Homo sapiens: one gene and its partners. The protein of the gene in region 2 interacts with the protein of the main gene of each other region in a biochemical or structural test. Each region holds a gene or a part of one and is shown on either strand. Other genes may lie near its edges. The genes, in order: SUMO2, CTNNBL1, CDC5L and PRPF31.

The links.
Region 1: the proteins of CTNNBL1 (region 2) and SUMO2 form a complex in vitro, tested with the Homo sapiens proteins (one large-scale study listed by BioGRID).
Region 3: the proteins of CTNNBL1 (region 2) and CDC5L form a complex in vitro, tested with the Homo sapiens proteins (3 studies listed by BioGRID and IntAct, with this or other methods).
Region 4: the proteins of CTNNBL1 (region 2) and PRPF31 interact in a biophysical measurement, tested with the Homo sapiens proteins (one study listed by IntAct).

Annotation. Positions count from the first base shown.
Region 1 is NC_000017.11:75,169,022-75,175,425, forward strand, and holds part of SUMO2 (small ubiquitin-related modifier 2 isoform a precursor), read right to left. Parts: intron 5,803-6,404; coding exon 5,731-5,802; intron 1-5,730. UniProt on the Homo sapiens protein: Ubiquitin-like protein that can be covalently attached to proteins as a monomer or as a lysine-linked polymer.
Region 2 is NC_000020.11:37,772,740-37,779,143, forward strand, and holds part of CTNNBL1 (beta-catenin-like protein 1), read left to right. Parts: intron 1-4,605; coding exon 4,606-4,678; intron 4,679-4,914; coding exon 4,915-4,973; intron 4,974-6,404. UniProt on the Homo sapiens protein: Component of the PRP19-CDC5L complex that forms an integral part of the spliceosome and is required for activating pre-mRNA splicing.
Region 3 is NC_000006.12:44,417,440-44,423,843, reverse strand, and holds part of CDC5L (cell division cycle 5-like protein), read right to left. Parts: intron 4,396-6,404; coding exon 4,247-4,395; intron 1,198-4,246; coding exon 1,035-1,197; intron 1-1,034.
Region 4 is NC_000019.10:54,124,312-54,128,983, reverse strand, and holds part of PRPF31 (U4/U6 small nuclear ribonucleoprotein Prp31), read right to left. Parts: intron 4,486-4,672; coding exon 4,328-4,485; intron 2,485-4,327; coding exon of another isoform or gene 2,457-2,484; coding exon 2,367-2,456; intron 912-2,366; coding exon 784-911; intron 680-783; coding exon 607-679; intron 1-606. UniProt on the Homo sapiens protein: Involved in pre-mRNA splicing as component of the spliceosome. Required for the assembly of the U4/U5/U6 tri-snRNP complex, one of the building blocks of the spliceosome.

The DNA of each region.
Region 1 (6,404 bases), on a different chromosome or scaffold from region 2:
CCACCTGGGCAACATAGGGAGACAACATCTCTACAAAAAAAAAAAGGAAAAAAAAAAAAAATTAGCCAGCCATGGTGACACATGTCCATACTCCCAGCTACTCAGGAAGCCGAGGTGGGAGGATCAATTGAGCCCATAAGATCAAGGCTGCAGTGAACTGAGACCACACCAGCTCACTCCAGCCTGAGTGACAAAGCAAAAGATCCTGTATCAAAAAAAGAGAAAAAAAGGCTAGGGCCACGCACAATGGCTCACTCCTGTAATCTCAACACTTTGGGAGGCTGAAGTGGGCGGGTCACCTGAGGTCAGGAGTTCAAGACCAGCCTGGCCAACCTGGTGACACCCCATCCCTATTAAAAAAAAATTTTTTTTTTTTTTTTGAGACGGAGTCTCCCTGTGTCGCCCAGGCTGGAGTCCAGTGGCAGGATCTCAGCTCACTGCAAGCTCCGCCTCCTGGGTTCACGCCATTCTCCTGCCTCAGCCTCCCGAGTAGCTGGGACTACAGGTGCCCGCCACAACGCCTGGCTAATTTTTTGTATTTTTAGTAGAGACGGGGTTTCACCGTGTTAGCCAGGACAGTCTAGATCTCCTGACCTCATGATCCACCCTCCTCGGCCTCCCAAAATGCTGGGATTATAGGCGTGAACCACTGCACCCGGCCTAAAAATATTTTTTAAATTAGCCGGGCATGGTGGCATGTGCCCGTAATCCCAGCTATTCGGGAGGCTGAGGCAGGAGAATCGCTTGAACCCAGGAAGCAGAGGTTGTGGTGAGCCAAGATTGTGCCACTGGACTCCAACACCGGTGACAGAGTGAGACTTGGTCTCAAAAAAAAAAAAAAAGGTGGGGGGGGGCGGGTGTGGCAGCTCACACCTGTAATCTCAACACTTTGGGAGGCCGAGGCAGGCAGATCACCTGAGGTCGGGAGTTCAAGACCAGCCTGGCCAAAATGGTGAAACCCAGTCTCTACTAAAAATACAAAAAACAAAACAAAAAAATTAGCTGGGCGTGGTGGCGCACGCCTGCACGCCTGTAATCCCAGCTACTTGGGAGGCTGAGGCAGGAGAATCACTTGAACCCAGGAGGTGGAGGTTGCAGTGAGCCAAGATCATGCCATTGCATGTGACAAGAAACTGTCTCAAAAAAATTAAATAAATGAAAGCTGAATATGTCTGTGTCGAGGGCCCACAGAAGGGTGATATGTTTAAAGAATCTCGCTGCACTGCTTAGCAAAGACTGAAAACAAATCTCAATAAAAACCCAAATTAGGCTGGGCGCCGGGGCTCACGCCTATAATCCCAACACTTTGGGAGGCCAAGGTGGGCGGATCACCAGGTCAACAGGTCAAACCCATCCTGGCCAACATGGTGAAACCCTGTTTCTACCAAAAATACAAAAATTAGCTGGGTGTGGTTGCGCACGCCTGTAGTCCCAGCTACTCGGGAGGCTGAGGCAGGAGAATCACTTGAACCCGTGAAGTGGAGGTTACAGTGAGCTGTGATTGCCCCACTGCACTCCAGCCTGGCAACAGAGCAAGACTCTGTCTCAAAAAACAAAAACAAAAACAAAAAACACCAAAACAAAAAACCCACGGCAGGCGTGGTGGCTCACAAGGTCAGTCATTCGAGACCAGCCTGGCCAACATAGTGAAACCCCGTCTCTACTAAAAATACAAAAAATTAGCTGGGCATGGTGGCAGGTGCCTGTAATCCCAGCCACTCAGGAGGCTGAGGCAGGAGAATCACTTGAACCTGGGAGGTGGAGGTTATAGTGAGCTGAGATCACGCCACTGCACTCCAGCCTGGGTGACAGTGCGAGACTCCAGGTCTCAAAAAAAAAAAAAAAAAACCCAAATTAATAAAACATAGTATGCTCAGATATTAAATACCATATAGCCGTTAAAAAATAAGATTTTCATGTACAGAAATGAAAATATCTTTAAGATACAGTAGATACAGTGTTAGGCTAAAAACACAATTTTAAAACTAAGCAGCAGCCAACTCGGTGCACTGACTATATAAGTTAGCCATGCTCTGTAAGGGGCAGTTAAAAAAAAAAAAAAGTACACCCCAAGGAGCAAAGCAGCTTATTGTATGACTACATTTGTGTTTTTCTATTTTTTCTTGCGATGGAGTTTCGCTGTTGTTGCCCAGGGTGGAGTGCAATGGCGCAATCTTGGCTCACTGCAACCTCTGCCTCCCGGGTCAAGCAATTCTCCTGCCTCAGCCTCCCAAGTAGCTGGGATTACAGGCATGCGCCATCATGCCCAGCTAATTTTGTACTGACTCCGTCAATACAGAAAATAAAATAAAAACAACATAAACAAATAAAATAAAAACAAAATTAGCCAGGCATCATGGTGGGCGCCTGTAATCCCAGCTACTCGGGAAGCTGAGGCAGGAGAATCGCTTGAACCCAGGAAGCAGAGGTTGCAGTGAGCTGAGATCACGCCACTGCACTCCAGTCTGGGAGACAGGGCAAAACTCCGTCTCGAAAAATAAAAAAATAAAAAAAAGCTGGGGAGGCAGGAGGCCTGCTAAGATGTTTTAATTTATCACAATCCTGCTATCTAACAAATATTGGGAGAATAATTCTAAAACGAATCAATTCCAAATTCTTCAAAATGAAGTAAAATGAATTGCAAATTCAACCTGAAGATTTTAAAATGCCTCAAGGTCACGGATCCAAACAAATAACTCCTTGTTTAATATTTGTAACTACTATAGCAGATAATCCCGTTTTAGTGGTGGGTAAGGAGGGCTTAAAGACAGGAAATACATTCTAATAACTGAGAGTACAGCACAATAGATACTTTTTACTATTTCTTTTAAAACCAAACAAGCCTGTCATCTATCTACTAAAACAAAATTATCCAAATGTGAAGTTTTACAGTGAAACTGTAAATGCCTTTAAAAAATGAGGTTCCTGTACCAGCCTCATTTATCAATAGAATTTAGCTCCTCCTTGTGGCTACATACCATAATTGCGCCTTTTTTTTTTTTTTTGACAGGGTTTCACTCTTTCACCCAAGCTAGAGTGAAGTGGCATGACCTCCGCGCTCACTGCAACCTCGACTGTCTGACACCTTTCCCCCGCCCAGATTCTCCTGGCTCAATCTCCCGAGTAGCTGGGATGGGATTACAGGTGAGCACCACCATGCCCGGCTAATTTTTGTATTTTTAGTAGAGACGGGGTAGTTTCGCCATGTTGGCCAGGCTGGTCTTGAACTGCTGACCTCAGGTGATCAACTTGCCTTGGCCTCCCAAAGTGCTAGGATTACAGTCGTGAGCTACTGTACCCAGACTTTTTTTTTTTTTTTTTTGAGACAGGGGCTGTTACCCAGGCTGGAGTGCAGTGGCACTATCTCTGCTGACTTTAATCTCCGCCTCTCGGGTTCAGGTGATTCTCCTGCCTCAGCCTCCTGAGTAGCTGGGACTACAGGCGTGCACCATCATGCCTGGCTAAATTTTTTTTTTTTTTTTTTGAGTTTCGCTCGTTACCCATGCTCGAGTGCAATGGCGTGATCTCCGGCTCACTGCAACCTCTGCCTCCTGGGTTCAAGCGATTCTCCTGCCTCAGCCTCCCGAGCAGCTGGGATTACAGGCCACCACACCCAGCTAATTTTGTATTTTTAGTAGAGACGGGGTTTCTCCATGTTGGTCGGAGTGGTCTCAAACTCCCAACCTCAGGTGATCCGCCCACCTCGGCCTCCCAAAGTGCTGGGATCACAGGCATGAGCCACTGCGCCCGGCGATGCCTGGCTAATTTTTGTATTTTTTGGCAGACACGGGGTTTCACCATATTGTCCAGGCTGGTCTCAAACTCCTGACCTCAAGCAATCTGCCTGCCTCAGCCTCCTGAAGTGCTAGGATGACAGGTGTGAACAAGTGCACCTGGCCCGTAATTCCTTTTGAGAGACTGTCACCAGTTGAAATGTCTTCAAAATATTCTTCTTTTCAGTACAACTCAGGGGCTTTTCCAATTTTCAAAGATTATCAACAAAACTACAATCTGGATGTGCTGCTTCATGCCACATTTATCACTTTCTAGTTTTTACTGGGTGATAAAGTTGAAATTCAAAAGTACATGGGATCCAATTTAAATTTCTACTATCACAACATTGTAAAATATGTTTCAGAAACTGTAAGTCTTCTATTTTTGAGACAGAGTTTTGCTCTATCGCCCAGGCTGGAGTGCAGTAGTATGATCATAACTCACTGCGGCCTGAAACTCCTGGACTCAAGCACCCCTCCCACTAAACTTCCCAAGAAGCTGGGACTACAGACACATGCTACCATGCCCAGCTCTTTTTCTTTCCTGTAGAGACCAGGTCTTGCTATATTGCCCAGACTGGTCTTAAACTCCTGGCCTCAAGCAACCCTCCTGCCAGTGTCAGTTTCCTAAAGTGATAGGACTACAGGTGTGAGCCACCAAGTCAGGACAAGACTGGAAGTCATTTTTTTTTTTTTTTGAGAGAGGGCCTCACTTTGTCACCCAGGCTGGTGTGCAGTGGTACCATCTTGGGTGACGGCAGCCTCCACTTCCTGGGCTCAAGCAATCCTTCCACCTCACCCTAAGAAGTAGCTGGTACTACAGGCACGTACCACTGCTCCCTGGCTAATTTTTGTATTTTTTTGTAAAGAGAGGGTTTTGCCATGTTGCCCAGGCTGGTCTTGAAATCCTGGACTCAAGTGCTCCGCCCACCTTGGCGTCACAGTGCTGGCATTACAAGCACTTTGTAATCTTGAAAATGGCTCTCATGAGCCACCCTGCTAGGACAAAACTGGAAGTATTTAATGGAACTTTGAAAGGGTAAAAAGAAACAAAGAGCTTCTGCCACAGAAGACAATCCAGCTGATCCTACAGAAAGTGACAGAACAAAATGAAGTGGTACATAAAGAGTTAAAGGATCAGAGAGCATCACGTTTTGTAGTAAGGATCTGGAAAATCTCCTATTATCAGGGGCTCTCCCTGTCAAACAAAGCTATGGGACGTGGCAATTAGGGCTATTAGTTCCTTTTTGTTCATGAAGACACGTAAAAGAGAATTTCAATTCAGCATGTAGAACTAAAATGGTGAGGATTTGGCTGGGTGCGGTGGCTCACACCTGTCAATCCCAACACTTTGGGAGGCCAAGGCGGGCGGATTACTTGTGGTCAGCAGTTCAAGACCAGCCTGGCCAACATGGTGAAACCCCATCCCTACCAAAAATACAAAAATTAGCCAGGCATGGTGGTGCATGCCTGTAATCCCAGCTACTCTGGGAGGCTGAGGCAGGAGAATTGCTTAAGCATGGCAGGCGAGGGCTGCCATGACCCAAGATCGTGACACTGTACTCAAGCCTGGGCGATGGAGTGAGATTCCGTCACAAAAAACAAACACAAACCACTGGTGGGGTTGGGCACATTGATTCGTGCCTATAATCCCATCACTTTGGGAGGCCAAGGCTGCAGTGAGCTATAATGAGGCCACTACACTTCAACCCGGGCAACAGAGAGGCCCTGTCCCTAAAAAAATAATTAAAATGAAAATTAAAAATAAATGAATAAAAACCATTGGCATTTCCTGAGCCTATTCCTATTTTCCTTTCTGTTCCCCTCTGGTCATACTTCCCAAAGCTCTGAACTCTACAAGAACTTATACTCCAGTGTCTAAACGTTCAAATTCATAAACACAGCTGTTCAAAGAATTACAAATGGTAATTTTTCTAATTAGGAGAGATTTTTTTACCTGTGCAGGTGTGTCTGTTTCATTGATTGGTTGCCCGTCAAATCGGAATCTGATCTGCCTCATTGACAATCCCTGAACGAGAATTTAAAAGCAATAAACAGCATTAAGAGAAACAGAATTCTATTTACATAAAAGTACATGCATATTTAACCATGAATATATTAAAGAAATACCTAAATAAACAATTGCCAACATGTTAACATACCCTATAGGTAAAAAGATTTGGGGTGATTTTCATTTTCTTTTTTTTGAGACAGTTTTGATCTGTTGTCAAGGCTGAAGTGCAGTGGCGTGATCTCAGCTCAAGGCAACCTACACCTCCTGGTTCAAGCGATTCTTCTGCCTTAGCCTCCCAAGAGTAGCTGGGACTACGGTCCCCCGCCACAACAACCGGCTAATTTTTGTAGTTTTAGTAGAGACTGGGTTTCATCAGGTTGGCCAGGCTGGTCTCGAACTCCTAACCTCAGGTGCTCCGTCCGCCTCAGCCTCCCAAAGTGCTGGGATTACAGGAGTGAGCCATGGTGCCCAGCCTCTCATTTTCAGTGAACAGTAAGATGTAGTATTTTTTTTCCTTTTCTTTTTTTTTTGAGACAGAGTCTTGCTCTGTCACTCAGGCTGGAGGGCAGTGTCGCGATCTCGGCTCACTGCAACCTCCACCTTTTGGGTTCAAGCAA
Region 2 (6,404 bases):
ATAAAACCTTACGATTTGACTGATCATCTCATATTTATTCAGTAATCCTTGAGTGATTCTTAAGTGAGTGGCACACTGGTGACAGCATTCTAGTGTTGGATTTCTCCTTTTTGTACTGGTAGCCTAGCAGTATATAGAGATATTCATGGATCTCTTCATCCAACAAATCAACCCCCACTAATTTATTCTTATGAGGATAAAAACCACTGCAGATGATTGCATTAAATGGATTAACAGGTAAGTAGATAACAGTAGTGTGAGAGATGCTGCATCACAATTAATGTTTTTAATGGGGAATACAAGCTTATTAAGATATTACGTACTATTGAAAATAACAGCAAAACCAAGTATAAGATTCCCTCTTGTTACCCAGTTAAATCAATGCTTCAGAAACAGTTGCAGCGTTCAGTTAAGTTATATTACATGTACAACTGGTTGATGCTAAAGTTCTTAGCCTCTATGACCAGAGGTTGGGATTTTGTAGGGCACAATCTGCTTTGACAATTGTACAGAGCTGTAGATATGTCTGAACCTGCCCCATGTGTTCCAGGTAGCAGAGGTGAGCTACAGATATAACCTGCAGCTTCTGGCTGTGAGTGGTAGCATAATTGTTTTGTACTTTCCAGAAAAGCAGCAGCTCCCAAAAAGGTGAAGTGTAATTTTATTCAAGGCTAGTACATGCTGAGTACAAACCTATGCATGACTCTATAATTACTCTGACAGCTGAAAGATTTAAGAGAGCCAGGCTCCTGGATAGAAGAGAGCCCTACAAGTTCCAAGTCCCGCTGATTAACTTTGCAAAATCCAAGAGACTATACCTGCTAAGTAAAATCTCCTTTCTCCTGATTTTGAATAAATGTCTTTGAAATTTGGCAGTTTGGTATTGTGCAATCTCTGGCTGGGATTTAAACAGAAATAAAATATGCTTTGTAAGTGTTGTCTTTGGCTAGACATGAAAGATTACTTTCCTTTCTTCCCACCTGGCCTAATTTCTTCTATTTCTTTTCTACCAGATTAAAACATTTGGTTGTCATCATCATCATCATCACCACTAAGTTTTCATCATCTGATATGAGTTTCATGTATTGACTGCTCACTACATGCTAAAGTGTTTTTCTAGAACCTTCTTCTTTCTTTCCTGTCTTTTTCTTCTTTTTCTTTCTTTCTCTCTTTTTTTTTTTTTTTTTTTTTTTGAGGCAGGGTCTCATGCTGTTGGCCAGGCCAGAGTGTTGGTGCCATCACTACTCACTGCAGCCTTAACCTCCCAGGCTCAAGTGATTTTCCAACCTCAGCCTCCCAAGTAGCTGGGACTTCAGGTGCACACCACCACACCCAGCTAATGTTTGTAGTTTTTTGTAGAGATGAGGTCTCACTATGTTGCCCAGGCTGGTCTTGAACTCCTGGGGTCAAGTGATCCTCCCGCCTCAGCTTCCCAAAGTGCTGGGAGTACAGGTGTGAGCCACTGCGCCTGGCCACATACATTATTTCTAATCCTCACAAACAGCCCTGCCAAGAGGGTGCAGCTATCCCCAATTTACAGATAAAGAAATCCCAGAGAGAGAGGAAATGGTGTTGCCCAAACCACATGGGAACCACGTGAGAGAGCCTGTGAGCATTGGGCCTTGGCATCTTTGAAGCCACCTCCTCTTGCCAAGCTGCTTCTCAGCTGGCACTGCTTTTAGGTTCTGAAGCATTGCAGAGCTCAGCGTTGGGGAGTTATCGGGCCTCATCATTTTGGTTTCCTGATTAGATTCTTCCTTCATGCCAATTTCTCAGTCAGAACTTATATTTTAATTTAAAAATGATGAAGTTATCAGTCTGGTTTTTAAAAACTTACTTTGGTTAAATTGGAAACTCTTAGTAGTGTCTTACAGCAAAAGGTGGAGATTTCCTGTGGAACCAAGAATTCTCAGTAGCAAGAAACTCAGCTGGTCGGTGCCTGTTATGTATACACCAGTTCCCTTAGTACAGCCACTTCATGAGGAAGATATTAATTTGGCCAGTCTCATAGCTGGTAACTGTTAGAGCTCAGATTCTAATGCAGATATTTCTGGTTATGGTTGTCAGAAAAACTTGTGGTACCTACTGTGTGTTAGGTACTTTCATATTATGTTTTTAAATTCTCATAGTAACTCTCCAAATAAGTGGGATTTTTTTTCTATTTCTTTTTTCTTTTTTTCATGTCAGTGCCCTTAATCAAAAAAGTGCTATTTTTTATTTTCATTTTACAGATGAGGAAACTGAGACTGAGAATGTTTCTTGGGTCATAGATTCCCATTGTCAGCTTACAGCATTCTTAGTGTCTCAGTAATTCTGTTTTTACAGCACCGCTATGCCAAAAAGTACCTAATAGTCTCATTTATTAAGTAGTTATGTCCAAACCATTTAATATATATTTATGTCCTTACAATTTATTAGCCATTTGAGAAGATAATACACACAAATTGAAAGAAAAAATATTTTTATTTCATTCTTAAATATCATAGTTACTTCCTAATGGTATGTGTGCCTTTTGGTACTGCTCAAATCCTTAAACCTTAGGATCAGATTGAACGCTACGACCATCATTCTGATTTCACATCGATTTTCACAGTTATTTTTGTCAGAGCAGCTATCCAAACGCAGCTCCACAAAGATATGATGTCACCAGAAGAAATGTAACTTGAGCTCCTGGTTAATGCAGTGTTCAACAGATGTCACATTTCACTGTGTTCTCCTTGAAAATTTAACATATCCTGTGGTGAATTAAATATGACACCCCAGTTGCCACAGCGCAAAGTTGGAGAACTGCAGATTTGAGTCAACCTTAGGTGTGTCTAATGCCAGATCTGTGTTTTATTTTCCTTTTTTAAAATTTGATATTTCTACAAAATTAATTTTAATTCAGTGTAAGGTTTTTAAATGCCACAACAGTGGACAGAGTTCAGATCTAAGTTACCCCTGTTTGTTCTCTTGCTTAATTCTGTGTCTTCCCTATAGCAGGTGCCTAATAAGTATTTATTGAAAGGAAGAAAAACTCCCCCCAACTTGAAAACAGGAGCTTACAAAATTGAATAAAGGACAAGAGGCATTAGATCCACAGAAAGGCCATGGCTCTAGTGACCTACTGTCTTTTGGCTTCTTTCAGTTAAGTGTCTTGTTTTAAACAAGAACCATGGCCCTTGCAATGCTAATGTATAAGTTGGTGTGGCTTAAATCTTTTAAAATATAATAGCAGTACTTGGAACTTACATAATTTGAGTGGGAAATTTTATTCGCAAATCCTTGATTTTGATAGAGATGCTTACTCCTTGGCTTTTCACCTTCATGTTTTGATTTTCGTTAATATGAAACCATTTTTCTTAAAGTGAAACATACCACAGGTTGCATTTAAGCCCTGACTATTATGCTGAATTTCTTGAAACAAGGCTTCAAGCTCGCCCAGGGAGCATACCTTACATTTAGCACATGTAAGACCTTGCATTTATAGATCTTTTAACCTAAGATGGTCATACTTGGTTGACCTCCTGAAACCCTGTAGGCTGCACTTAGCTTGATGAGGAAGACGTGCACAGAAAACTGAAATGATACTGAATATTGCTTGATTAGGTACAACTCTTCCTCTTTAAGTATAAAACCAATATCTAAACAGATCTGTGAATGGCGGTAAGGTGACGGAAGTGTTAGTTCCAAGATAAACACTTCCCTTGTCTTTTCCAAGTACAGAAATTCTTTGTCATTTCAAAAACACAGATAGGTAGCAAAGGTTGCTGCTGATTAATAATCATTGTTTACATGCCTGCATTTTAAGGATCATGGGCACCATAAATAAAAACACACCACTGAGACTCGCTCCTCTCTATGCACCTTTATCCAGGGGGCAGTGATAATGGTGAGATATTTAAGTCTCACTACCGAAGCAACACTGAGGACAGCCATGAAAGATAGTCTGTGCAGTAGATGTGTCCCCTCTGAAACTCCCAAATAGCAGAGCATGCAGCGGGGAAAGAATTGTGGGTAGTAATTTGGGTGTTAAAATATTAACACATTTTTGCATATTTAATGTGGTTTCTGTTTTAAGTAGTAGGCAGATTATGGCATGCAAGCAGATAAGTTTATGATTTCAAATTAAATTTTAAGCATTAAAAAAATCCAGAAGGAACTACTTTGTGATAAATACATTCAGTTAATCAAGAATTGCTTTCTTCTCTGCTCATATATTAACTAATTTATAGCCTAATTTCATGATTGTAACTTGTGAATTAAGCTTCATGGTGAGTTTTAATCTTAAAAGTTCAAAACTCTCATTCATCTAGTTCACATTTGGGTACTATGGGCTAGACATATATAATCTCTGGACTCAAAATGGGAAATCTTGGAAGTCTTCACCGAGGAGGTAACCTTAATACCTGGGCATTAAGAGTGTGAGAGCCATTGTTTCAATCTGTCACTTTACTTGGTTCTGGTCTCTTGAGAGCAGAGGCAGACGTTTTTACCCTTAACTGCCTTTTCCTTTTCTAACTTCTGCTTCTCTCTAACTCAGATCATAGTACTCGTGAAAAATTTGTCCTGGGGAAGGAAGCAAGACCCCTTAACATTTTTCTCATTTCTCCTATTTCCCCATAGGCAAAGATGCCTTTTGATGCCAACAAACTGTATTGCAGTGAAGTGCTGGCCATATTGCTCCAGGACAATGATGGTGAGGCGCCCTCTCAGTATTGATATTCTGTTAGGATAGGAGCCAGGCTTGTTTCAGATCATGACAGCAAGCTCTCTTGCCTTTGGCATCCCCTTGCTCTCCCTCTCACTCCCTGTGCTGCTTTTGTACTCTGTCAAGCTGTATTGATTTTGTTTGCTGATGTATCAGTGTTAGACGGCTGTAAAATCTGACAGTTAGGTTCATTTTTTTTCTTCCTCTATTTTTTTCCCCTTTAGAAAACAGGGAATTGCTTGGGGAGCTGGATGGAATCGATGTGCTTCTTCAGCAGTTATCCGTGAGTAATTCTTATGCTTCCTGTCTGCTGTAAGATACATGGTCTGCTTTGAATGGGAGGTGGAGCTGGAAACTGTGGGAAGGAATAAGCCATGTGCTGCAAGCCATATGGAGCATGTTGGCAGGTTTGAGGGTTATACGGAGGGACATGGTTTGCCTCCTTTTCTTAGTCATTTGCTCTTTATGACCAGACATCACTGTGTATCAGTTCTGAACTTTCTTCATCTTCTGATATGATATTGTCAACTCAAAAAAGATGTGCCTCATGCTTAAGTGTGTATGTTCTGGGCCAAGCATACCAAATTATTTTCATTTGACCCACTGCCAAGATTATTCACCAACCTTCCTTTCAATCTGCTGTGAAAATGGAGTATGTTCATTTAGGATCTGAATAAGCTCAAGGAGTACAAGTTCCACTGCAGTGGGGTGGGGGTCAAGGGGAGGATAGGGGAGGATGTGGTGCTGAAGGCTGGAGTGAGAACTTGGAAACTGCCATTTTCTCACTGTAAGAAATGTAAATCCAGTTGAAATGTTATTCTGCTGGCATTCTGAAAATACTGTTAAGATTTCCTCTTACAAGTTTTAGCTGTGTTATTCTAAAAACAGGACTGAAAATAGATCATTTGGATAAAATCTTAAGAGTGTTGGGAGAGTCTGAGATGTCAGTTTGCATACAGCTTCCATCTTGGTGCCAGCAGCCTGAGTGTCTTGGCCTCCACCCCAAAAATAGAGCTTTGAAATGTGAATCTGTTTCCAGTTCTGGGAAGGTGCTTAGTCCTTTTCCTGTGAGATTATTGATCTTCTTGTAGTAGACTGTATGGGTATGCATATACAGTTTAAAGGCTTCTCTTAACATGCCTTACATCTCTGGCAAAAAGAAAACTAATGCTGTAAGCCCTTCCCATGAATTAAAGCCCCAGCTCCCCTGTGAGGGAATTCAGTAGCCTTGGTTGTCAGGAAATGCTTCCTTATATTGAGCCACGATTCAGCCCTCTGGATTGTGGTTGCTTTTAGAAGGGAAAGAAATGAGATATGGTTGGGTTGGGCAAGTGGAGGGCTTTGAGGGGAGTTGGCAAAGTTGTTTCTCATCCTGGATAATGATTTCAGGGGTGTTCACTTCATTTAGTTTTATATGTCCTTTATGGAGTTTTTCTGTATCTGTGTTATATTTCACGATAAAAAGATTTTGTTTTTTATTGGGTTTTGGTTTTTAAAAAAATCTGCTTGCCTGGAACTGTCAATTACTGATGGACCCAGTGGTCAGTAGAGTGTTTTGGCTTTTTTTTTTGCATGTATTTAATATATGTGAATCATTTAGTTTCTCTAAAATGGAAACTGATGAGAATTTTGTTTGGTGAGCTTCTGTTTCCTCAGTCGTAGAGTTATGACCCACAGGTTTTAGGAATTGTTGGATGGAGGCTCATGAAAAGAC
Region 3 (6,404 bases), on a different chromosome or scaffold from region 2:
CCTTGGACTAATAAAATCCACTCTAAAAGATACTTGAATTTGTATGTATGTGTTTATTTTTAATGGAAATACTAAATCCCATGCAGAAGAAAGAAAGTAGAGTCCTGGTTCCCAAAAAAGCCTCCTGGTACCCAGAGTTTTCCCATCCATCCTCAGTGCTTACATGTACCAGGTGTGAGGAACAGATGAGTTGCTATATCTAAAACATCCTCCATGCTTACTCATATTGTAGTCTCCATCTGAGACAGCCCCCACCCTCCTTCAGAACATAGCTCCTCTAATAAGGCTTTCCTGTTACCCAACAAATGTGACTATTCCCTTCTTTAACTACCCTAAGCACACTGGTTTTACTCAAAGGGCTTATTCTGTTCTGATATTGCAATTATTTTTGGACTTAGTTTAGTACTGTCAATCTCCCCAGAATATAAATTTCCTTAGGACAAAGGACATCTTTATTCAACTTTAGATCCCCTCAAATGTCCAAATGCATGCTCTGCATGCATGAGGTTCTTAATCTATTTAATTCTTATGTATCCATTCAGAGTTGGCTTTAGTTGATATCAATTTGAACTTTAAAAAACATATATAAATCAACCAAATATATACATGAGGTTAGAATTAATTTTAAACTGAAGACAAGCCAGTATCATTAGAAGTTTTTTTTTTAATTTCACAATGATTTCTGTGGCATTAGATAATAAGGCCCAATAGCAAAGTAATAAACGCAGTAACACGGGCAGAAGCAAAACTTAACTTTTTACAGTTAGCTTTCTACCTCAGCTTGCTAAAGAAAACTTCAGTGAAATCAACAACGAACATCAATATTCACAAACCTAGTAAGCATAAAGAAAGGTGGGTTTTGAGCCCAAAATATTCCCTTTCATCAAGTCTTACAAATAATTCTTTTTCTGGCATCCACAGGTGTATAGATTCTTAAGGTATATGTGATATGCACTAACAGGAGAAATTTTAATTTGGCATCCATGAGATATTAAAAAAAAATTTAAGAGTATTAAAAGGGAATTGACATTTACCATCTGCTTCACGTAAGAGGGATCACTATAGTCTGCCATTCCATCCTCGGGATTAATGTTTAACTTGTCTCGAAGAGGAGTTCTACCCGGAGTAGAGTTAATAACTGGTTTGGGAGTTGTTCCACTCCGGGGAGTCAGCCCTTCAGCTCCATTAGAAGGAGTCCTAGAAAGACAGGAATCCCAATTAACAGAAGTGCCACTTACATTTGGATTGTGCTTTCAAATGTTTTTCACATAAATTATTTCACAGGAAATATAGAAAAAAAAAAGAATAAAGATTTCAAAATTCTGTCCAGCTGGTTTTGTTAGGATCTCTAGGTTAAAATCAATGTTTGGTCTAGCTAGCATGGTATTTTTATTTTACTGACTTACAATAATCACTACATTTGATATTTTCTTGCCTTCCTAAACTACGTCCACTAAACATTATTTCAACCTTTTCTTGGCACATTAGGGCGACTAAGAACATGCAGTGGGCAGGGAGGTGGGCCACCACACTCAATGACCCCAGATGACTCTTTGAGTTTTGTGTATATTTGTCTCCTCCCTCCCTATCAAGCTGTTGGTTCTCACATCACTATCACTGTCATTATTACAAATGTACACACTTTATTAAATAGTTCCTCCTTTTACATTTTGTTTGGAAACCAAACACCACACTTTTGAAATCACATCTAAACATGAGTAAGTTCCTGAGTGAGGCCTAAGAGATTCTCCTAGGAATAAGATCCACAGATTTTGCAGCAACCTATATTTTAATTATTCAAAGTCTTTTTTTTTCCTGGTTGCCTATTTCCTGTATATTGGTGTGTTGCAGAACGGTGATGCTGCCAGACAGCTATTCCTGATAGGTAAGGTGTTATCACATAAGACATGGTTCCCACCCCCAAGGATTTTACAATCTAGGTGAGAGACAAGACATACAGTTGTCCCTAAGTATCCACCGGGGATTGGTTCCAGGACCAATACTCAACTCCCTGCAGATACTCAACTCCCTGATATAAAACGGCATCGTATTTGCATATAACGTATGCACATCCTCCCATGTACTTTAAATCATCTCTAGGTTACTTATAATACCTAATACAATGTAAATGCTATATAAATAGTTGGTACATTGTATTTTTATTTGTGTTATTTGTTATTGTTGTACTGTTTGAGTTTTTTGGAATATTTTTTATCCACAGTTGGTTGAATTCACAGATGTGGAATCCTCAGATACAGAGAGCCGACTAAACATAGGAAATGAGGGATTATGCTCTCTTACAAGACTCTCAAGAAGTGTTAAATGTTTAAGACTGGCTGCCAATGCTTCTTGGTTCTGCTGTCATGATATGTGTAATAGCCTGAAGTGCTTTCTCTACTAAATAACCAGTAGGAAGACATATCTTAACACTTAAAATTCAAAGTAAACCCCAAATATTTCCAACCATTGTAAGTTCCAATTCCATTTTCCTACTACATGCTTCCATAACATTTGTATTTTAAAGATTCTTCTTAAAAAACAGCAGCTTAAAACTAAGCAAGAGTTATAAAGAAATACTGAATTCTAGTTAACGCATGTGGAAGTGTTTTGGGATCAAACAAACTGCTACCTGCAAGTTACTTCGAAATGCATTAAAAATTATGATGGATTGGTGGATGGATATGTGATAAAGCAAATATAGTAAAATATTAACGATCTTAGAATCTAAGTGGTGGGTATATGGATGTTCACTTTACCATTTGTCAACTTAAATGGGTGAGAGACCGGGTCTCCAAAACAAAGAGTTTATTCGGGAACGGCAAGGGATTACAGTGTGGGATATGTGTGCTATGACAGACCATAGGTACAACTGAGGGTGCTGGGGCAAGGAGAAGTTTTTAAAGATACAAGGGAGGAGTCTACGCAAACTGTTCTGAAACAAAGACCATTGGTTACAGGGACTTATCACAGGAGGTGGCATTTGTTTTCATTGCCGGTATAGATAAGAGTATCCCTTATCTGAAATGTGGGACCAGAAGAGTTTTAGATATGGGATTTTTTCAGATTTGGGGATAACTGCATTATACTTACTGGTTGAGCATGCCAAATCAGGAAATTCAAAATCTGAAACGTTTCAATGAGCGTTTCCTTTGAGTGTCATGTTGGTGCTCAAAAAGTTTGGATTTTGGCCAGGCGCAGTGGCTCACACCTGTAATACCAGCACTATGGGAGGCCAAGGCGGGTGGATTACCTGAGGTCAGGAGTTCGAGACCAGCCTGACCATCACTGAGAAACCCTGTCTCTACTAAAAATACAAAATTAGCCAGGCATGGCGGCGCATGCCTGTAATCCCAGCTACTCGGGAGGCCAAGGCAGAAGAATTGCTTGAACCTAGGAGGCGGAGGTTGTGATGAGCCGAGTTCGCGCCACTGCACTCCAGCCTGGGCAAGAAAAGCAAAAGTCCGTCTCAAAAAAAAAAAAAAAAGTTTGGATTTTGGAGCATTCTGGATTTTCAGATTTGGGATGCTCAACCTGTACTGGCTGTTGGTAGGGCAATGTCTTCACAGAAGCAACTTATCTGGAATTTGTGTGGTTTTCAGAAGGTCCCTGCAATAATTTCTGTCATAGGCATACGCGCATGAGGGTTCCTTTTTCATTAAAATGTAACATAAATGACTCCATTTCAATACTGATAACTTCCACACATTCTTTCAACCTTTCTAAATGCCTGAAATTTTCATAATAAAATGCTGGAGGGAAAGCAATAGTAATACATACATAAAAGGATTACATAATAAAATTCACAAAGTAATCATTAAAAATGAATCAATCTACTCTAAAATCAAATACAAAGTATTCAAAAATAACGTGATAGGATCCGAAGCTTTGCAAAAGAACACTCCAATTAGACAGGCATGGTGGCGGATGTCTGTAATCCCAGCTACTCAGAAGGCTGAGGCACGAGAATCGCTTGAACCCGGGAGGCAGAGGGGTTCCGTAAGCTGAGATCGCGCTACTGCACTCCAGCCTGGGTAACAGAGCGAGACTCCATCTTAAAGAAAGGGGGGGAGGCACTCCACAGTATTTAACCATTTCCTGGACACTATTATTTATTACTATGAAGAAGAAATCAAAGAGGAAAATCCAACACAATAAGTAGTCATTCTCCGTAAACATTACTAAAGCAAATATGCTAAGTCCTTGAATTCAAGTTTTTCTAAAATAAAAACGTGTTCATTTACAATACCTGAATGGAGTAGAGAGAACTGTGTTTGGAGTCTGTACAACTTGTCGCTGTGGAGTTACACCTGAGAAGTCACTCTCATGCAATGGGGTATTAAGTCCACCTTTCAATGGGGTGTCCACATTGGTGAGGGCCATGAGGTTCTGGGCTTCCTGATTAACAAGAAGACAAAGAAGCAAGTTTAAAAGTTTAGACAGACTTGCAGAATCTCTTCTGGTCCTACTATACCAATCTTGAAGCAGGCAGAATCCTTACTCATTTTCTCAATGAAAGCTAACAGAGAAAATGAATACCAGTCATGGCAGATTTCAATGTTTCCATTCCTTCTATCAATCTAACACATCACATTAGAAGTGTTATACATCATGGGAAAACTGGCTAGCCATATGTAGAAAGCTGAAACTGGATCCCTTCCTTACACCTTATACAAAAATTAATTCAAGATGGATTAAAGACTTAAATGTTAGACCTAAAACCATAAAAACCCTAGAAGAAAACCTAGGCAATACCATTCAGGACATAGGCATGGGCAAGGACTTCATGTCTAAAACACCAAAAGCAATGGCAACAAAAGACAAAACTGACAAATGGGATCTAATTAAACTAAAGAGCTTCTGCACAGCAAAAGAAACTACCATCAGAGTGAACAGGCAACCTACAAAATGGGAGAAAATTTTCGCAACCTACTCATCTGACAAAGAGCTAATACCCAGAATCTACAATGAACTCAAACAAATTTACAAAAAAAAAAAAAACAAACAACCACATCAAAAAGTGGGCGAAGGATATGAACAGACACTTCTCAAAAGAAGACATTTATGCAGCCAAAAAACACATGAAAAAATGCTCATCATCACTGGCCATCAGAGAAATGCAAATCAAAACCACAAGGAGATACCATCTCACACCAGTTAGAATGGCAATCATTAAAAAGTCAGGAAACAGGTGCTGGAGAGGATGTGGAGAAATAGGAACACTTTTACACTGCTGGTGGGACTGTAAACTAGTTCAACCATTGTGGAAGTCAGTGTGGCGATTCCTCAGGGATCTAGAACTAGAAATACCATTTGACCCAGCCATCCCATTACTGGCTATATACCCAAAGGATTATAAATCATGCTGCTATAAAGACACATGCACACGTATGTTTACTGTGGCACTATTCACAATAGCAAAGACTTGGAACCAACCCAAATGTCCAACAATGATAGACTGGATTAAGAAAATGTAGCACATATACACCATGGAATACTATGCAGCCATAAAAAATGATGAGTTCATGTCCTTTGTAGGGACATGGATGAAATTGGAAACCATCATTCTCAGCAAACTATCACAAGGACAAAAAAACCAAACACCGCATGTTCTCACTCATAGGTGGGAACTGAACAATGAGAACACATGGACACAGGAAGGGGAACATCACACTCCGGGGACTGTTGGAGGGTGGGGGGAGAGGGGAGGGATAGCATTAGGAGATATACCTAATGTTAAATGAGGAGTTAATGGGTGCAGCACAGCAACATGGCACATGTATACATATGTAACAGACCTGCACATTGTGCACATGTACCCTAAAACTTAAAGTATAATAATAATAAAATTTAAAAAGAAGTTTTATACATCAAATAAAGTTTTATGTGTAGAGGTGTGCTTTTGTGGCCTCACATATGAAATTACTATTACAAGAATTCAAATTTCCCAGCTTAGGCCAAATGTCTGAATGCCTGGGTTTTAGTCTGGCTTCACCACTGAATTCTCTATCCAGTCTTCATTAGTATCTCTGAGGTCTGTTTCTTCTACTGGGAACTTAAGATACTCCCAAGCAACCTTTCCACTGCACAAGAAAACAACTTGTGGGGGTCAGGTCCCTTTCAGAAGTCTTGCTGATCTCTTTAGGCAGAACTGACCATGTTCTCTTTAGTCCCTTCACTGTAACCCTGTCCTCAGTGCTATCTTTGTACCCATAAATCTCTTTATGTCCAACTTAGGGCCTGTGGCAAAGTTTATTTTCCAAAGATGGTCACAACCTTCTCTCTCATGTTTCATGTTCTTAAAATCCAACTGTGATACTCCTTCCATCAAGAGGTAGGGTCTATGTTCCCTCCCCATAAATCTAGGTGGGCTTGTGATTCACCTGAAACCAACAGAACACAACAAA
Region 4 (4,672 bases), on a different chromosome or scaffold from region 2:
CCAGCCCGAAGCCCAGCGGTCACCAGCCGGCCGGTCCCACGGGCACCTGCTCCGGTACCCACTCGGCCCGGCTGAGGCCTGGGGGCCCACACACGCGGGGGATGCTGGGGAGCCTGAGAGGGGCCCGGTCCCAGCACTGCTCTGTGAGCTCAGAGTTGGGAGGCCATTCCTTCCTTACTCGTGTGGGTCGGGGGATGTCAGGAACCAGAACAGGTTTAATAGGATGAGGTGGCCTCTGAGTTCGGTCCTGCAGGACCAAGGGGATGACGCTGGGATAACAGAGGAGACTGGCGGGGCCCAGGGACGGGGCGGCCGTGCAGCAGGGCACTAAGGAGCCTCTGGGCAGGGAGGAACCGGCCAAGGAGCCCGGGGCGATGGGAAGCCGCGGGGGCTCTAAGCAGCGGAGACACAGGCTCCAAGGGTCGCGAGGGTCGCTTTGGGGCTGAACGGATGGAAACGAGAATAGAGGCCGGGGGGGGGGAGGCTGGGGCAGCGCCCTAGACATGAGCCAGGGCCACAGGACGAGAGGAGGGGCGGTGGCAGGAGGCAGAGGGCGGTGGCGGCTGGCTGGCTGTGGGGTTGAGGAGGGCGCTCTGGGAGTCTGACCTCTCCGAAGCTCATACGGTTGGCCTGCTTCCGGATCTCCGTCAGCCCCAGCCGCTCCTTCATCTTGCGGTACCTGGGGACGGGTGGGTGGGCGGCGCCAGGGAGTCGGCTGGGAGGAGGACGCCGGCTTCTCCCCTCCATGACCCCCATGCCTACCGGACCCCCAGGGCCCCTCACCTGCGGCCGCCTCGCTTCTTCCGCTGTCCATCCAGGGGCGCAGGCAGCGGCTTCACCTGCTTCACAGGCGGCGGCTCCTGCCACTTGTCGAATTTGCGCTCGATCTCATCCTTCAGTTCGTAGCCCACCTGGGGAGGGCGAGGGGGAGGTCCTGCAGCTGCTCGCGTGGGCTGCCCACCCAGGCCTCCTCTGAGCGGGCCCCCCGAGTATCCACGTGCCTTAGTTAAATCAGCACCTAATGCTGCCTCACCGCCACCCCCTTTCTTTTTCTTCTTGGTGTTGACTTAGCACCGCTAGACGCAGGACAGAGTTCACCTGTTGACTGTCTCTTTGACCCGGCCCCAACAAGAATGTCCACGCCACGGGGCAGGGGTCCTGTCTGTGCTACTCACAGCTGCACCCCCACACCCAGACCAGGGGTGAGATGGGGAGAGGGAAAGGAGAAGGGGACACGGAACACCTGAACGCTGTGCCAGGCCGGGTGCTTGGCAAACGACAGTTCACAAGACAGAAAACGTCTCCTCTCCCGAGTACATCTACCAAGGAAGACAGAAGGTAACTGAATAATTACTTGAATAACATCCCCTGTTGCAGCGGGGACAGATCCTGGTGTGGAAGGCAAATTACGCCCCCACCAACACACACATGCCCAAAGAGGCCCATGTTCTAATTCCCAGAATCACAGGGCAAAAGGGACGTGAAGAGGTTAAGAAGGATTTTAAGGATTGTGAGCTGGGAAGACTATCCTGGACCATCTGAGTAGGCTCAGTATAGCCACAGGGGCCCTTAAAATAGAAGAGGGGAACAAAAACAGAGGCGGAGATATGAAGACAGAAGCAGAGTCAGAGAGAGGTCTGAGGGTGCTATGTGGCTGGCTCCGCAGACAGAGGGAGGGCCACGAGCTAAGGGGTGCCAGTGACCCCTAGAAGCTGGAAAAGACCAGGGAATGGATTATCCCTTGAATCCCCCAGAAGGAACGCTCCAGGATGACACCCTGACTTCAGCCCAGTGAAACTCATTTTGGACTTCTGACCTACAGGACCACAGATAATAAACCTGTACTGTTTTTTGTTTTTGTTTTTAGATGGAGTCTCGCTATGTCACCCAAGCTGGAGTGCAATGATGCAATCTCAGTTCACTGCAACCTCCGTCTCCCAGGTTCAAGCAATTCTCCTGCCTCAGCCTCCTGAGTAACTGGGATTACAGGTGCGTGCCACCACACCCGGCTAATTTTGGTAGAGATGGGGTTTCACCATGTTGGCCAGGCTGGTCTCAAACTCCTGACCTTGTGACCCGCCCACCCTGGCCTCCCAAAGTGCTGGGATTACAGGCGTGAGCTACTGCACCCGGCCACACCTGCACTGTTTTAAGCCAGTAGGTTCATGCTACCTTCCAACAGCAGACCTAGGAAACCCCACTGGGGAAGGGGGTGCCTGACCCCAGGGAGGGTGGGCAGAAGCACTGCCTCCGCCTTGGTAGGACAGTGCTCGCTGGGGTGGGCTCCCTGCTGAGGGTCTCCCTGCAGAGACACCCCAGGCCCAGAGGAAAAGACGCCCGGCCGCCCCTCACCTTTCCCTCCTCACCTTCCCTTCTGTGCTCTCGTGGAAACTGTCCACACGGGCTGCCAGTGTGCACTTGGCGGCCACCAGCCGGGCCGCTTTCCGCCGCAGATCCTGGAGCAACGGAAAACGGGGGTGGAATCTGTGTGAGACAGACAGACAGAGGTAACAGCAAAGCAACCGCGCGCGCTCCTCCTCTGGCTCTACCTGGGGTCCTGGAAGGGGGCTTTCCACCCTTGGGCTCTAGAGGTGTGTGCTCTCAGCTCCTACTTCACAGGAAGAGGGGATGAGGGCAGGGCACAGAGCCATGTCCCAGCTGATAAGTGGCCATCAGGTAAGGATGACAGTAAGGCACGCTGACAACGAGGACGGTGGTGACTGTGGAGACGCCGGGGGGAGTGCACTCGGCCTGGATGCCAGCCCCATGCTAAGCACGCCCCTCGGATCATCTCATCAAATATTCAAATATCGGGCTGGTGTGATCATTGCACCCCCTTTTCAGATGTGGAAACCAAGGCTTCAAGTCATGTGGCCAGGGAGACAGCCAGCAGGTGATGGAGCCAGGGTTCCAATCCAAACTGCAAACAGAGCCCAGCTGTCAGCCACAGTGAAGCGATGGCCAGCCCTGGCCTCCCTTACAGGCCTGTGGTGTCTACGGCCTGTGCCTGGACCGATGTGAGATGGCCAAATGAAGAGGCAGAGGCCTGGGTGACAAGACATCAGGCTCCCTGGGGCAGGTTTAACCCATATGCCCAGGGCTGTGAGGCGGTGGCGATGGCAGGGGTGCAGTGAGGCAGCTGGAGCCCCGAGCCCCAGGCCCACCCGTCCTGGGTTCTATCGCCCACTCTCTCTCCTCCCAGGATGGGGTGACCTGCCAGCCTCCCTGGGTGTGTTCCAGTAGCAGTGCCTGACCTAAAGGGTCGCAGAAAAGACCACAAAAAAAACCCCACACAGGGCTGGGGGGTGGGGCCAGGAAGTGCCTGCCCAGCCTTGGCCATCAGTGCTATTGTTCTCCCCATCCCTGGGGGAGGCCAGGCAGGGCACAGGGCCGTGAGCCTGAGGTAACTCGCCACAGTTGGACAGAGCAGGGTCTGGACCCAGGCCTGTCTGTCCCAGAACCTGTCTTGCTTGTTTTTTTTTTTTTTTGAGACAGAGTCTCACTCTGTCACCCAGGCTGGAGGGCAGTGGTATGATCTTAGCTCACTGCAACCTCCACCTCCTGGGTTCAAGCGATTCTCCTGCCTCAGCCTCCCAAGTAGCTGGGATTATAAGTGTGTGCCACTATACCCAGCTAGTTTTTTGTATTTTTGGTAGAGATGGGGTTTCACCATGTTGGCCAGGCTGGTCTCGAACACCTGACCTCAGGTGATCTGCCCGCCTCGGCCTCCCAAAGTGCTGGGATGACAGGCACGAGCCACTGCGCCCCGCCAGGCTAGCGGGCCTGTGTGTGTGCTGTCAGGCGTCGATGCTGGGATGGTGATGTGTCCCGACTGCAGGGAGAGGACCCGGGAAGCTCCGAGGTTGGTGACCTCTCCTGCCCCTCCTGTGTGTCTCTCCCCATGGCTGATGTGCAGCCCTCAGTGGATTCTGTGAGTCTTTCTAGTGAATGGTCAAACCTGAGGGTGGTCTTCGGAGCAGTTGCACGCTAACCCGACGCTGCTTGTCGTGAGCTAGGCCTGAACTGTAAGTGCTTCATGTGCACTGAGCCCTCGTCCCAACTCATGAAGCAGGCGCTGTGCTCCCATTTGATAGGGGAGGAGACTGAGGCACAGGGCGCTCATGCCTCTTGCCCACAGTCACCTGACTGGTGGGTGCTGGAGCTGGTCTGCTGCAGAGCCCTGGCTCTCACGTCCCATGCCACCCTGTTCCCAGCTCCTGAGTGCTACCGTCAGCTGGGCCAGATGGTGGGTGGCTGCTCAGGCTGTCTGGGCACAGCGGAAGGCTCCAGGGGGGCCGGGGGAGGGGCCATGACGCAGTGGGCTCACCGGTGGCAGGGACTGCACGATGTCACTGTGGTAGATGTAGCCGGTGTGGGGCAGCACTGAGGTAGACGAGAAGCCCGACAGCGTCTTGCGCTGGGCCCCGAGCAGCATGATGTTGCAGGCGGGCATCTTGGAGAGGTTGGTCAGGCCGCCGGCCACACCTGCGGTGGGAGGGAGGGAGGAAGGGGGGGCGGTCAGAAGAAAGCAGAGAGGTGGGGGTGAGTAAATCTGCCTGGGGGCTCGACGTGTGCTGGGCACCTTTACATGAAGTTCTGGTTGGATTCCTCGATGGCCCTGCCAGGCGGGCGACCTGGCCCATTCCGCAAGGGGCAGATGCAAAGGAGGCTC